Linked DNA regions of Homo sapiens. The protein of the gene in region 1 interacts with the protein of each later gene in a biochemical or structural test. Each region holds a gene or a part of one and is shown on either strand. Other genes may lie near its edges.

What was found.
Region 2: the proteins of BOLA1 (region 1) and GLRX5 form a complex in vitro, tested with the Homo sapiens proteins (2 studies listed by BioGRID).

What each region holds. Positions count from the first base shown.
Region 1 is NC_000001.11:149,895,253-149,901,296, forward strand, and holds BOLA1 (bolA-like protein 1), read left to right. Parts: upstream 1-4,315; 5' UTR 4,316-4,420; exon of another isoform or gene 4,421-4,478; intron 4,479-4,590; exon of another isoform or gene 4,591-4,757; 5' UTR 4,758-4,807; coding exon 4,808-5,221; 3' UTR 5,222-5,543; downstream 5,544-6,044. UniProt on the Homo sapiens protein: Acts as a mitochondrial iron-sulfur (Fe-S) cluster assembly factor that facilitates (Fe-S) cluster insertion into a subset of mitochondrial proteins. Probably acts together with the monothiol glutaredoxin GLRX5. May protect cells against oxidative stress.
Region 2 is NC_000014.9:95,530,068-95,538,065, reverse strand, and holds the start of GLRX5 (glutaredoxin-related protein 5, mitochondrial precursor), read right to left. Parts: upstream 3,017-7,998; 5' UTR 2,977-3,016; coding exon 2,682-2,976; intron 1-2,681.

The DNA.
Region 1 (6,044 bases):
AGTACCGTATCTGTGTTCATTTCTAGAGTCTGACAGTTATATTCCGGCTATGTGAGAAAATTTTTTTTTTTAAGTAAATATACATCAGTCAGGATTCTCCAGGGAAACAGAACGAATGGTAGATATTTTGATAGATAGTTTTATTATAAAAAATTGGCTTTTTGATTATGGAAGCTAATAAATCCCAAGATCCCCAAGATCTTCAGGGTAAGTTGGCAAGCTGGAGACCCAGGAGAACTGATGATATAGTTCCAGTCCAAGTTCAAAGGCCTGAGAACCAATGGTGTAGTTCCAGTCCAAAGGCCGAGTCTAAGACCCAGATGGAGCCAGTGTTTACTTCTGAGTCTGAAGGCTGAGAAAAGCCAATGTCCGGGTCTCAAAGCAGTCAGGCAGAAGGAAGTCTCTCTTACTCCGGAGTGGGTCAGTCTTTTGTTCTAGTCAAGCTTTCAACTGGTTGGATGGGACCCACCTATATTAGGGAGGGCAATTTACTCAGTCTCCAATTCAAATGTTAATCTCATTCAAAATACTCTCACAGAAGCACCCATATTTGGCCAAATATCTGAGCACCAATCCTCTAGAAGTTGGGACATTAACCATCACAGGCCGTGCGTGGTGGCTCACGCCTCTAATCCCAGCACTTTGGGAGGCTGAGGTGGGTGGATCACCTGAGGTCAGGAGTTTGAGACCAGCCTGGCCAACATGGTGAAACCCCCCTCTCCACTAAAAATACAAAAATTAGCCAGGCGCCATTGTCCACGCCTGTAATCCCAGCTACTCAGGAGGCGGAGGCACAAGAATCACTTGAACCCAGGAGACAGAGGTTGCAGTAAGCCAAGATTGCATCACTGCACTCCAGCCTGGGCGACAGAGTGAGACTCCATCTCAAAAAAAAAAAAAAAGTTAACCATCACAGGTAGAGTTTAATAGGCTTTATCTCTGAAACTTAGTCTCAAACAGTCCAGAAAATAATTATATATTTGTAGATAGGTACATACAAATAAAACAAACAGTGAATTGTTAATATTTGGGTAATCTAGGTATCAGGATAAAGGATATACAGGAATTATTTGAACTGTTTTTTTTAACTTTAGATGCACAAACCTTGTAATTATCCTTGACACTTTCCCTCCCACAACCAAGCCATTACCACACCCTGTAGGTTTTACTTTCCTAATATACATCCTGTAGCCACAATTTCTCTCCATTTCCACCACCACCACCACCACCTTGGTCCAAATCATCATCATCTCTCACCTAGACTGCTACAGTAACCTCCCAACTTGTCTCCCTGTTTCCACTCTTGCCTCCTCTACAATCCATTCTCCACCCTGAAGCCAGTGATCTTTGCAGAATACAAACTTAAAGTCAGCTAAATGCAATGCATGATCCTTGATTGGTTTCTGAAAATTAAACATTTATAATGTTTACTTAGACTGTGCTGCTATTACAAAATACCACTGACTGGGTAATTTATAAACAGAAATGTATTTTCTCACAGTTCTGGAGGCTGGGAAGTCCAAGATTACGGCACTGGCAGGTTTGGTATCTAGTGAAGGCCAGTTCCTCATAGATACGCCATCGAGGTGACCTTACATGGCAGAAGGGACAGAAGGGGCCAACTTACCCCCTCAAGCTCTTTCAAAAGGCGTTAGTCCATTCTTGAGGGTGGAGCCCTCATAGCCTTATTACCTCCTAAAGGCCCCACCACTTAATACCAACACCATGGATTAATTTTCAACATGAATTCTGGAGGAGACATATTCAAACTATAGTAGACACCAATGAGACAGTTGGGGAAATCTGAATATCAACTGTATGTGATTATAGTATTGTATGAATGTTAAATGTCTTGGATGTGGTAATGGTATTGTGGATATGTATGAAAATGTCCTTGTTCTTAGGAGATACACATTGAAAGTACATAGCAATTAAGTGTAAAGAATTTTGTGGGGCCAGGCGCAGTGGCTCACGCCTATAATCCCAGCATTTTGGGAGGCCGAGGCGGACTGATGACCTGAGTCAAGACCAGCCTGACCAACATGGAGAAACCCCGTCTCCACTAAAAACACAAAATTAGCCAGAGTGGTGGCGCACGCCTGTAATCCCAGCTACATGGGAGGCTGAGGCAAGCAAATCGCTTGAACCCAGGAGGCGGAGGTTGCTGTGAGCCAAGATCGCACCATTGCACTCCAGCCTAGGCAACAAGAGCGAAACTCCATCTCAAAAAAAAAAAAAAGAATTTTGTGGCTGGGTGCAGTGGCTCACGCCTGTAATCCCATCACTTTGGGAGGCTGAGGCAGGCAGATCACTTGAGGTCAGGAGTTCCAGAGCAGGAGGATCACTTGAGGTCAGGAGTTCCAGACCAGCCTGGCCAACATGGTGAAACCCCATCTCTACTAGAAATGCAAAAAAATTTAGCCAGGTATGGTGGCACCAGCCTGTAGTCCCAGCTACTCAGGAGGCTGAGGCAGGAGAATCACTTGAACCCAGAAGGTGGAGGTTGCAGTGGGCCAAGATGGCGCCACTGCACTCCAGTCTGGGCAACAGAGTGAGACTCTGTTTAAAAAAAAAAAAAAAAAGAATTTTGGGCCAGGCGCAGTGGCTCACGCCTGTAATCCCTGTAATCCTGGGTGGCCGAGGAGGGTGGATCACCTGAGGTTGGGAGTTCCAGACCAGCCTGATCAACATGGAGAAACCCCGTCTCTACTAAAAATACAAAATTAGCCGGGCATGTTGGCACATGCCTGTAATCCCAGCTAATCAGGAGGCTGAGGCAGGAGACTTGCTTGAACCCAGGAGGCAGAGGTTGCAGTGAGCCAAGATCACGCCATTGCACTCCAGCCTGGGCAAGAAGAGCAAAACTCCATCTCAAAAAAAAATAAATAAATAAGATTTCTGCACCTAACTCAAGTGATTCAGCAGAAATAATTATTATTATTTCATTATTATTATACACACATACATTAAAAGAGATACAAAGCCAAGTCTGGCAAAATCTTATCAGTGAACCTAGGTGAAGAGTGGATAAATGGGTTGCTCATTGTATTAATCTTGCAAATTTTCTGGAAGTTTTAATTTTTTTTAAAGGCTAGGGAAAACAGTGTATGTCATAGTTTAAATTTCTTGAGTGTGATAAGGTTATTGTGGTTATGTATGAGAATATCTTTGTTCTTAGGAGATACATATTGGAGTAGTTAGGGGTGAAATGTCATGCTATCTGCAACTTACTTTCAAATGGTTCATCCAAAAAAGCATATAAATATATTTTAAAGTATATGTAAAGTACTTAAATATATGAGTATATATGTACAAGTATAAAATAAATATAAATGCAAAAAATGGTGGGTCAAGTGAAAGGTAGAGGGTGTTGCTTTGAACTATTCAACTTTTCTGTGGCTTTGACATTTTTCAAAATGAGAAGTTGGGGAAAAACATTTAGAAATATGTAAATATATTAAGGATACAAAATAAAATTTAAATAATTTTACAAGTTAAGAATCATCCTGGAAAAATTACATCCTGTTACATCCCTGCTTAAAACCTCAGTAGCTTCCCACTACTTCTAGGATAAAGACAAAATTGCCTAACAAGGGCTACAAGGCCTGGGGTGGTCTGGCCCGTTCCTCTCCTCCTGGTACCCTACTCATCACCATCAGCTGCCCCCTAGGCTCCAACCACACATAACCACACCCTAACTACACCAGAAGGAAAGACTCCCTCAAAATTCTCTCTCCTCCTGTCCTTTACACATGCAGCTACCAAAGCCAAAACCTCACTATGAGGGACTGAGAAATGGATTCTCATGTTGTTTCTGCTGAACTGTTTCCCTAAATCTCGGAAATATTCTCTGCCCGCCTCCCATTCCACCTCTCCAACCCCGGCCAAGTCTGGGTAACTTGCCTCCTTAGCATCCTGTGTTTATCTCATCGTAGCACCTAGTACCCAGTATTGCAATTGTCCGCTCACTTGTTAGTCTTCAGTGCTCTGTTGTCTCCTTGAAAACAGGGCCTGACTTGACTCCCCAGTCCCCAGCACTAGTCTGGGGCACAGTAATTATGTATTCAATCAGACTTCCATTTTCTTGCATATAAAATAAAGGAGTTGGGCTGGATGATCTACAAGATCTATTGGCAGTAAAATAGATCTAATAATCCCAATCCCAACTGCGCGTGAATTCCCTTTTTCTTTGCATTGCTGGGTTCAGACTTTCTGACCACCTTACCAGTGGGGAGAATCCGAGACTACAGTTCCCATGAGCCCTCAGGGCACCACGTGGTGCCTGCCCGTGCTACCAACGCGCAGCGAGGACTCCATTTCCCAGCGTGCCTCAGGAAGGGCGCCAGGACTGCATTTTGCTCCGGAGCGTCCAGAGTCCTGGCCCTGAGCGGGAATCGCAGTGGCCGAGGCTGAGCGGCAGGTAGAAGGGGCGTCTCCGGGGCTTCACAGGGAACACAGGGGCTTCGGCCCAACCACAAGTACGCAGTTGCACATGCCCTACTTTTGCCCATTCTTTGCAAATCCCCTAAGGAACGAACGCGCCTCGCGTGCGGGCCTTTCTAATCTTCGCTTGTCCCTTCACTTCCACAGCTGGAGGTCGAATTCACCACGTCACGTAGAGAAAAGGGGCGGTGTCTCGGGTCTCCCCGTGTGGCATCAAGGCGGGCTCCCTATAGGAGCTGGTGTGGACGTCCGGGCGTGGGGTTAGGGCGGATGCGGGGATCGCGGGGCGGGTGTTGACATTGTGCTCTCACCAGGCGGATCGCCCCGACCCTCACTCCTGGCGTCTGAGTCTCTGGCGTAGCCCATGCTGAGTGGGCGGCTGGTCCTGGGTCTGGTCTCCATGGCTGGCCGCGTTTGTTTGTGCCAGGGCAGCGCGGGATCCGGGGCCATCGGTCCGGTGGAGGCCGCCATTCGCACGAAGTTGGAGGAGGCCCTGAGCCCCGAGGTGCTAGAGCTTCGCAACGAGAGCGGTGGCCACGCGGTCCCGCCTGGCAGTGAGACTCACTTCCGCGTGGCTGTGGTGAGCTCTCGTTTCGAGGGACTGAGCCCCCTACAACGACACCGGCTGGTCCACGCAGCGCTGGCCGAGGAGCTGGGAGGTCCGGTCCATGCGCTGGCCATCCAGGCACGGACCCCCGCCCAGTGGAGAGAGAACTCTCAGCTGGACACTAGCCCCCCATGCCTGGGTGGGAACAAGAAAACTCTAGGAACCCCCTGAACCCCAAGAGAGGGAGGACCAGGATCCGAATGGGCTGGGTGAGCACGAATTACCGAGGCCTTCCCTTTGATACAGTCCAGGATTTGTAAGGGATGAAGACCCCTGGGCCCCATTCTGTTGGGGTCCATACATACTCTCCGAAGATAGCAACTTGCTTCAGGTCAAAGTGAACCCGAGAAAAGAGAAGAATCACTCACTACTGCTCTTGCCCTGGACTATTCAGGAAGGGCAGCCCGGATGTTCCATGTTAAATCGTGACAGAATTGCACCAGACCTGATGAGTTGGAAACAATCCTATACATTAAAAGAAATTACACTATGAGGCTGTGTTCTTAATGGACTGCTGAATCAGTGCCACAGGTGTTCTTGGGAGAAGAAAGATACTTGTAGACTAGTCGGGAAGGGCTTTATGAGGGAAGTGATCTAGTTGGATCTTTAAAGGAAAGCACAAAATTAACCAGAAAGGAGAGGATAGGTGCTGCAGGCAGGGAGAAGAACCTGAGCAAAGACATAGACGCTGGACTGAGAAGTGAGTTAATGGACAAGACAGGGGATATAGGCAGGGACACATTTGAATTTCATCTTGAGGGGGGGAATGTTTGGCTTTTTTACAGCCTGTTCATTTCCAAAAAGTAGTATTTGTATTTGTTTAAAAGAAAAATGTTTTTAAAAACCACTAAAGCAGTGAAAAGAGGATAAGAACTAAGAAAATGATTACAGATGATGAAGAAACCTTTATATAGCCTTTTTTTTCTTTTCTTTTCTTTTCTTTTTTTTTTTTGAGATGGAGTTTCGCTCTTGTTGCCCAGGCTGCAGTGCAATG
Region 2 (7,998 bases), on another chromosome or scaffold:
TAGTTTCCATAAATTACAGGTGATTTTCCTTCTTTAAACTTTTCAGTGTTTTCTACATTGCTTCCATGAGCATAAGTTCCTTTATTAAGACCAGGATTAGGAAATGATGATGTCAGTCTACTGGGACCTGATCCCTTTGTGACTGTCTTCTGTGTGCACTCCAGATAAAAAGAGAAGGACAAGAAGGTCTTGAGAAGGCCAGAACACAATGCTGCCTCATAGTCACCTTTGTTCCTTGGGTCACAGTCTCAAGATGTGTCTGTATCACACTCCTGGGAACCCAGTACTCAAAACTAGGAAAGAATGTTTTCCTCCGGTTTAGGCACTTTGTAAAGTTCAGGTCTCCTTGGCATAAGAACCAACAAAAGGCCAGTTTTGCAAGAGCTCCGTTCCTATTACTAGAAATGACCTTGGATCTGGTGTACAAACATAGTTTCGGCTGGCAAAAGCAAGCATCGGACAGCCCGTTAGTTGCTCTTGGTAAATAAAGCTGTATAGGGAAGAGGGGAAGAGTCTTAATAACCTGGCTGAACTAATCCCCATTTGGGGAACGTGCTTTTACCACCCTGCCCAGTCCAAATGTTAATACTTACTAATCTTTACTTTTCTAATCAATAAAAGAGGTATGTTATATTCAATATATATGCAACGCGTTTATTAACCAAAATAGCAATCTGATGAAACTCAGTGGTCAAGGAATGTAAGGGTTAAATTCCTGTCGCTGCTGTTTGAAAACTTAAGAAAGTAAGCTCAGAAACCAGACACCAGACGTGGATAAAAGACAGAAAAATAAAATGTTATCAGTACATATTCGTATTTTTGCTCCTATTTTCCGTTTACTAGCTATATTCCAGCATATCTCATTTCCAGTTATATTAAACAAGAGAAAATAAATTCACAAACCAAAGACCCTCGAAACATGATACTAAGCGAGATAACAACACCACTTTTTTACTAGTGCCATATTGGCAATTTGCAGGGGACTCCCTGCAAGGTCTCTGTCAAAAGACTGCAAAATAGTTACTCCTCTTTTAAGCAGAGAAGCTGTCTTCGAAGGAAGACTGCAGGTCCCTTGCCTTGCACATGATAAAACTGAGCCCAGTAACTGGTGGCATACTAGTTGACAAGGAAGACAAAAGGGTCATGAGAATAACACATGGTAATATTACATATACGTGGTAATTTGAACCTGCCCTCTCGACTCCTCAACTCAACATGCTTTCTAGGTCCCACCCACCACCACTATCACCTACAGCAAATGGAGGATCAGTTATCCCCAAGAGTCTTTAAGGACTAGATAATCTGGGAAAAAATACATTTGAAAACCATCAAGTGCTAATACGAAGCCAGCTACCATTTACCGGGTGCTTTCTGTGCCAGGTAAAATAATACACACTTTCTATAATTTTTACTTTGGCTTCCTAACACAAACTTTGCCAAATTGTCTCATTATCCTCAAATGCAGGTGAGTGACTTAAGTTTTACACCTGATTAGCCACAGAAGAGGATGTCAACCCAAAGCTTTTCCAAACACCAGCCTGTCTCATCATTGTAAGCAATGACTATGATTAGTAATTTCGAATTTAGAGTAACAGAGAACCTGGCACCTATTTTTAGCACACAACTGGCACCTCTTTTTAGCTAGGGACATGCAGGGACTCAGTCACTGAAAGTCTCTAACTGGGATGCAGGTATCCTAAGTCACTCTCTAGAAGGAAAAGGTACAGCCTTCCCAGTTTTCCACCAACCCTGACCATCCTGGCCAAGGAGCAGGCCCTTGTGCCTGGCCTCTTCCTCCTCCCCTACTCAGATAAGACTGGCGAATGCACGTGGAGTACTTGGAAAAGATGCTTATTAGCTGCAGCCTTCCCTCTCCCGGCCTAATCCATCTGGTCCCTGGTGCCCTGGCCCCCTGGGCTCCAAGGCTGAGCCAGTGAGTTAGCCCAGGGCCCAGGAGCCAGGGCTGCTTCTTTTCCCCACAAACCTCTCCAAGCCCTGGCCCACATAAATTCAGCCCTGTGCTTGAGTATCTAAAGCCAAATGTCATGACTCTTCCCCGACAACATAGATCCCGACTAAGGTCAGCCGACAGCTGTCCCAACCCTTTGCTTGTAGCAACCACAGAGGATGATGCTTGACACCCTGAGCCGTGAGCCAAGCGAGATCAGCCTCCGACCTCACTAGCCTCAAGGGCAACCTCAGCCCTCTCCCCACCATCGACAGCCCTAGACCTTACCCACGAGTAGGCCAATGGCTTCCAACCTCCCCAAAGTGTCCGCGAAAGTACCTATCTCACAGTGGGTCCTTACTATGAGTTTCCTAACCGTGCAGAGCAGTCAGGCAGCGGGCCACCCTCCTCCGAGTCAGTCATTGACAAATCGCCCCGAAACGCCTATATTAGCTCGAAGTGAGGATAAGTGAACCTTTAGGACTTTACCTACTGCTCAAGTTGGCAACAGTACAGAGCCCCAGATCCTCAAGACCCAGTGAAATCAACTACACCCTCAGCCCAGACTCTACTCCAGGGCAGTACTCCTCGCCCTAACCCGGCTCGAACCTTCAGACAGACCCCGGCGGATGGAGCCCCGCTCCCCAGCCCGGCGCGGCGGAACCCCTCGGCCTCGTGCAGCGATGCTCCTGGGCCCGGGGCGGAGGGCGCCTGCCCGGCACACTGGCCTGACCTTGTCGGAGCTCCGGGTCGTCCAGCACGTTGTAGGCCGCGTAATCGCGGACGCCGTGCAGCCGCAGGATCTGCACCACGGCGTTGCTGAAGCCGCACTGGGGCTGCTCCGGCGTCCCCTTGAGGAAGACCACCACCTTGTCCTTCTTCACCAGCGCGTCCAACTGCTCCGCCGAGCCGCCGCCGCCCGCGCCCGAGCCCGCCGCCCGCACGCCCGGACCCCAAAGGCCACCGCCGCCCGCGCCGCGCCCCCAGCGGAGCAGAGCCGCCGCAGCTCGGCCGAGGGACCCGCTCATCTCCGCACGCAAGCCGGAGCCCACGACGGCCCGGGCCCACAGCTGGCCACCCAGAGCGCTCCCCGGCCCGCGGCAGTCCGACCCGCCCCCTGGAGGCCCTCATTGGGCCGGCTCTAAACTGCCCTCCGTGATTGGACAATACTGATCAGTAATTACTCGATTCCACCAATCATGTTGCTCGTCCCGCCCGGCAGGTAGGAGGTGGGCCTTATGCCGGAGCCTCATCCTACTGCCTTACTATTGGTCGTCGGCAACCGCTTTGTTAGTTAATTGGAGAGACTGGATGTCCATCAGGGTCACGCTTGCAGGGCAACGAGAGGCAAAACAAGAGGGAAGACGACTTTCCTCCTGTGAGCCAATGAGGCCAGCTGGACTACGCCGAGACAACTGGGAGAGGCGCGGGACTCGCCCGTTCCGCGGAACGCCGGGAAGGGGTCACCTCCTGATGAAGTTTCCGGTTCCGGTGTCAGCGGCGGTTGAATTGCCATGGCAATGCGGTGGGCGCGCGCTTGTCGTGTTGGTCTCTTGGGAGGTAGCGGGGCTAGGCCGGGCGGGTATCCGCCTCTCCCAGCTTAGGTGAGCGTCCCCGGGCGCCTCCGGAGCGCCGCGGCCGCATGCAGTTCGTCGTGGCGGGGAGCCGGAGCCTGACCGGGGTTCCAGCGCTCGGGCCGTAGCCTTGGCTCCTGGACTTTCCCTGGCTCCGCCGCCACGTGGGAGCTGAGGCTCTGGGGCTTCCGCCTCCGGCGCGCGATTATTTCTCTAGAACAGTTTTCATTTTTAAAATTTGTAAAGCGCTTTTGCCTGTGTGATTTCCTCTGGGTTTTTTTTTTTTTTCTTCCTTTTTGTAGAGACGGAATTGGCGGCGGGGGCGGGGGGTCGATGTCTCACTTTTTTGCCCAGGCTGGTCTCGAACTCCTGGCTTCAAGGGATCCTCCTGCCTCGGCCTCTTAAAGTGCTGGGATTACAGGCGTGAGCCACCGCCCCCGGCCGCCTCTGAGTTTCCAGCCTCGTTGGCCCTCCAGCCTTTTAACCTGTTGGGCCTAGGATCAGGAAAGGTTTGTTGAATGGGGAACTAAGAAGTGAATTCGTTCGTTCGACAAACGTTTCCTGAGCAGCCGCTGGGTGCTAGGCGCAGTGCCAGCGCGGAATGTCCAGGGAGACCTGGTGCCCAAAGCTTGGACCCATCGTGAGAAATGAGAAGCAGATACAAAGCAGTGTGGGAGTGCAGAGGAGACAAAGCAAGCCTCATCAGGCCCATTGCTTGCTCTGCTCTCCCTTGTACTTACCAGTGCTTGACAATATACAGTTATTTACTAGCTTGGTTATTGACTTCCTACCCAGCACTCAGTTTTATTCACTGCTGTATCCTCAGTGCCTAGGACGATGCTTGGAACGTGGTAAGTGCTCCTATTGGCGGGAAGAATAAATCCGGAAGAGCAGGACCAGTGGACTTGCTACATAATCTGTAGTCTTGGAGCCGCACAGGGTTGGTGGTACCCTCGAGCACACCAGACTTGCAGAAAAAGCATACTCCAGAGGAAGCTGAGGCATGCCTGCTCGAGAGCCAGCTGTTCCATGTGCAATTTTCCTCTGATAGTTTCTGGTCACTGTTGCCACGGTGATAATGACTGGGCTATGTCATTATCTATCCGCCAACAGTAAGAGAAGCTTTGCAGTCGAGATATTGTTTAGCAGATGGAGTGTTTTCTGTTGAACACTAAGTACTGCCACAAGTTACTTTTTTTTTTTTAAACTTTGAGTATTTTTTTACAATGTTGCTGGAGGTGATCTGTTTATGCTTTGAGAGTGTTCGAATTTAAAATCAGAAAATCATGTCAGTGAGTGAGTCTTTCAAATAATCCTTCGGCATGAAACCTGAGCCTAGTAAACTATGAAAGTAAACTCGGCACATTACCCGAAAGTCTCAATGTCATATTTTCACCCCCATCAATATTATTGATGATTGCTCATTTTCTAATGTGGGACCTGAAATTTACCAGGTGCTTAAAGAATCTTTTTGTTTTTCAGATTCATTGATTCCAGGTAAATCAGAGGAACAAGCAACATGAACAGAAATATGTAGAAAAAGCTATTATGCAGAAGCATAATTGTTGTTTCAGAAGTCCAGCATCTGGTGCACTTAACAATAGAGAATATATTAAACTCTTTCCAAAATAACCTGTTGTTCCTACCTGTGTTGTAAGTGTTTTGTTTGTTTTTAAGTAAATATTGGTGATTTGTTGCCAAAAACCTAAACTGTTTGTTGCTGTCAACTTAAATAACGAACAGAGAGAGGCTCTCTAAAAGAAAATGGCATTTATTCAGGAATAGAGCACTGCAATGAGAAAATGCATGCGATAGTTAACTGTGTGTATCCTGGGAGATAGAGGAAGACAAAGGTCTTTAAAGGAAAAATGAGGAGGGTTACATAATTGTTTTGAGATAATTATTTTTGACTACAAGGATCAGTAACAAAGGTGACACCAGTCCCAGGTTGGACAGGCAGGTGCTCGGCAGGCATTGCAGAAGTATTTTTTGTGTAAGATTGAGATGGCCTTTGTGCAGGATTGTGGTTTTGGAATCTTCTGTGATCGTTTTTGCTATCAGGCATTTATGCTTGCGAACTCTTTATGGCCTTCCCTGTGTCTATTTTGATTCCACCTTTCTCATTGCCCACTCTAAACTGTAATTCTGCTTTTATGTTGACTGAGATCAGGAGAAGAATTTGCAAACTTATATCCTGAGACAGAACAGTAATGAGGAGTATCGTGTTCCTTACCTAATGTATAATATTGGGCTCAGAAGCAGTTGTCTTTTTTATTTGTTGAACGTTGTATTAAGTTGAGAATGCAGCTGCCATTAAAGATTAAGAGTAATCCTTGAGAAGGAAGAGTACAAAGCCTGTGTTTTGCTAAATCATAGTGAAGTTGCCGTGTTTTTGTAGAATATGATAAGAACATACAGTGTGTGAAATGCTAAGGATATGGAAAAGCATGTTGGTGCTCTTTCAAGGAGCTATTTTGATAGCATGAGCAAGGGCAGGAAACAGATCATGTATCTGAACCAAAGAAATTGAAACAATACATCTAAATTTAAATTTTTAATAAAACAACCCAAAATATAGTGAAATACTTAGCACCAAACATCAGTGATCTTAAGAAGCAAAGAAAACAGTATTCAAAATACTTCGTCCAAAGTATCAGACTTTTGCATAAAGTTTGGCATTTTGGTTTTGAGATTCCTCTTTAGTCCTATGATGAAAACATGACAAAATATACATCTTAAATAAACAGTTGTCATCAGTCTGCATCTATGACCAGATGTTTTGGGTGTTTTGAGTAAATGGCCTGTCTTAGCATGTGATGGCTTCCTGCCTCGTGAACATTAGTGAAGAGGTGAGGGTGGGAAGTACTCAGGAACTTCTGAGAATCCTGGGATTTGAGTCACAGGATTGGTTAAACCCCAAACTAAATAATCATGCCGTGTAAACATGCTGACTCAGGCATCCTAAAAATGTTTTTCTTCCTTGTGTTTATTTATAGATAAGGCTTTACTATATTTGGTAGAACTCCTGTTTTCTATCCACTTCTCCAAAAACAAATTCGCCATTGAATTCATCGTGTAAACCTCCACATATCTGAGATAGCTTCTTCCGTTTATCAGCCCCAAATGAAGAACTAGAGTTCAGATTATTGAACTGAAGGTGATGCTTTATCTGAGCACTCCACATGTCAGTGTTTCTGTACCTTTACTTTTTTAAAAAATTATTTTTTAAAAAGATGAGGTCTCAGTAGGTTGCCCAGACTGGTCTCCAACACCTGGTCTCGAATACTCCTCCCGCCTTGCCCTCCCAAAGTGCTAGGGTTACAGGTGTGAGCCGCCGCACTGGCCCTGTTCATTTTATGCTCAGTGCTGCATTCTTGTTTGTTCTTAGAAAATGAGAGGGTGTGTTTGCATGAGAACGTGTGGTACAGAAGTGTCTATCTGAGCTGGCCAGAACATTCTGCAAATGTCATATTAAGGGCAAAATGGCTGCTTGGATTGTACAAGGGGCCGAACCACCACGCATTCCTAAGCTAAAATAGCAGATTCTATTGACCTGAGCTGGAACCTGAAAGCTTCCTCTGTGATGCACTGAGCTATCATCTAGTAGTTTTAGAGCATCACTGCAACCCTGGAACTACCTGGATTCCCTGATAACACCAAAAATAATGTAATGTATAAGAAACTGAAGCAAAATGCAGCCCTCAGAATTTTTCTAGTCCCTATTGTGGAGATAGAAATGCTTGTTGGATTTCGACTACCTCTATCTGACAAGGCAGCTGGTTTATTAATACTTCTTTGGCCGAGGCTTTGCTCATCCCTGCCGCCCACATCTTGGAGACAGGAAGGCAGGCCAGCCTCCACTGTGTCACACAAGTCCTGCTCCCTTCACCTGCCCTGAGTCACTGGGTCACTGAAGAGAAAGGGCATGCTGTAGATCTGGTTAGTTCAGTCTAGAATAGACCGTGGGAGATAGGTGAGCATTTATGAAAAGCCCAGATGCCATGACAACCCAGTTTTGTCCTGGAATTTGGGTGGAGGTGTAGTCCTGGGTTCTGGTCTTAAACGTCGCTGAGTACTTGAGTTCTTTTTGATTTTCCTCAGATTTTTCCACATCTATTTTCCCCTTTCTGGATTTTGGAAAAATCCAAATTGATGTCTGCCGAAGTTTGTATATAATTGAAGAATTTCTTCATATAAAGGCTGCAGCGTTGTAAGAAATCTGTGTGTACTTTCTCTGCTCATAAATATTTACCCCCAAATGTTATCATCTTGCATAGATTGTACTTTTTTGTTAAATTTTTGTGTGTATACATGAATTCATTCGAAGCATACATTAACCCTAGGATAACAGTTCTCAGACATTTTGGTCTCCAAATTATGTTTTTTTCTAATATAATATGTTGATAGACATTAGCACTTGTGTCTCTAAGTTTTGTTGCCTTCACATGCAATTTCTGTTTTCCTGCTGATTCATAG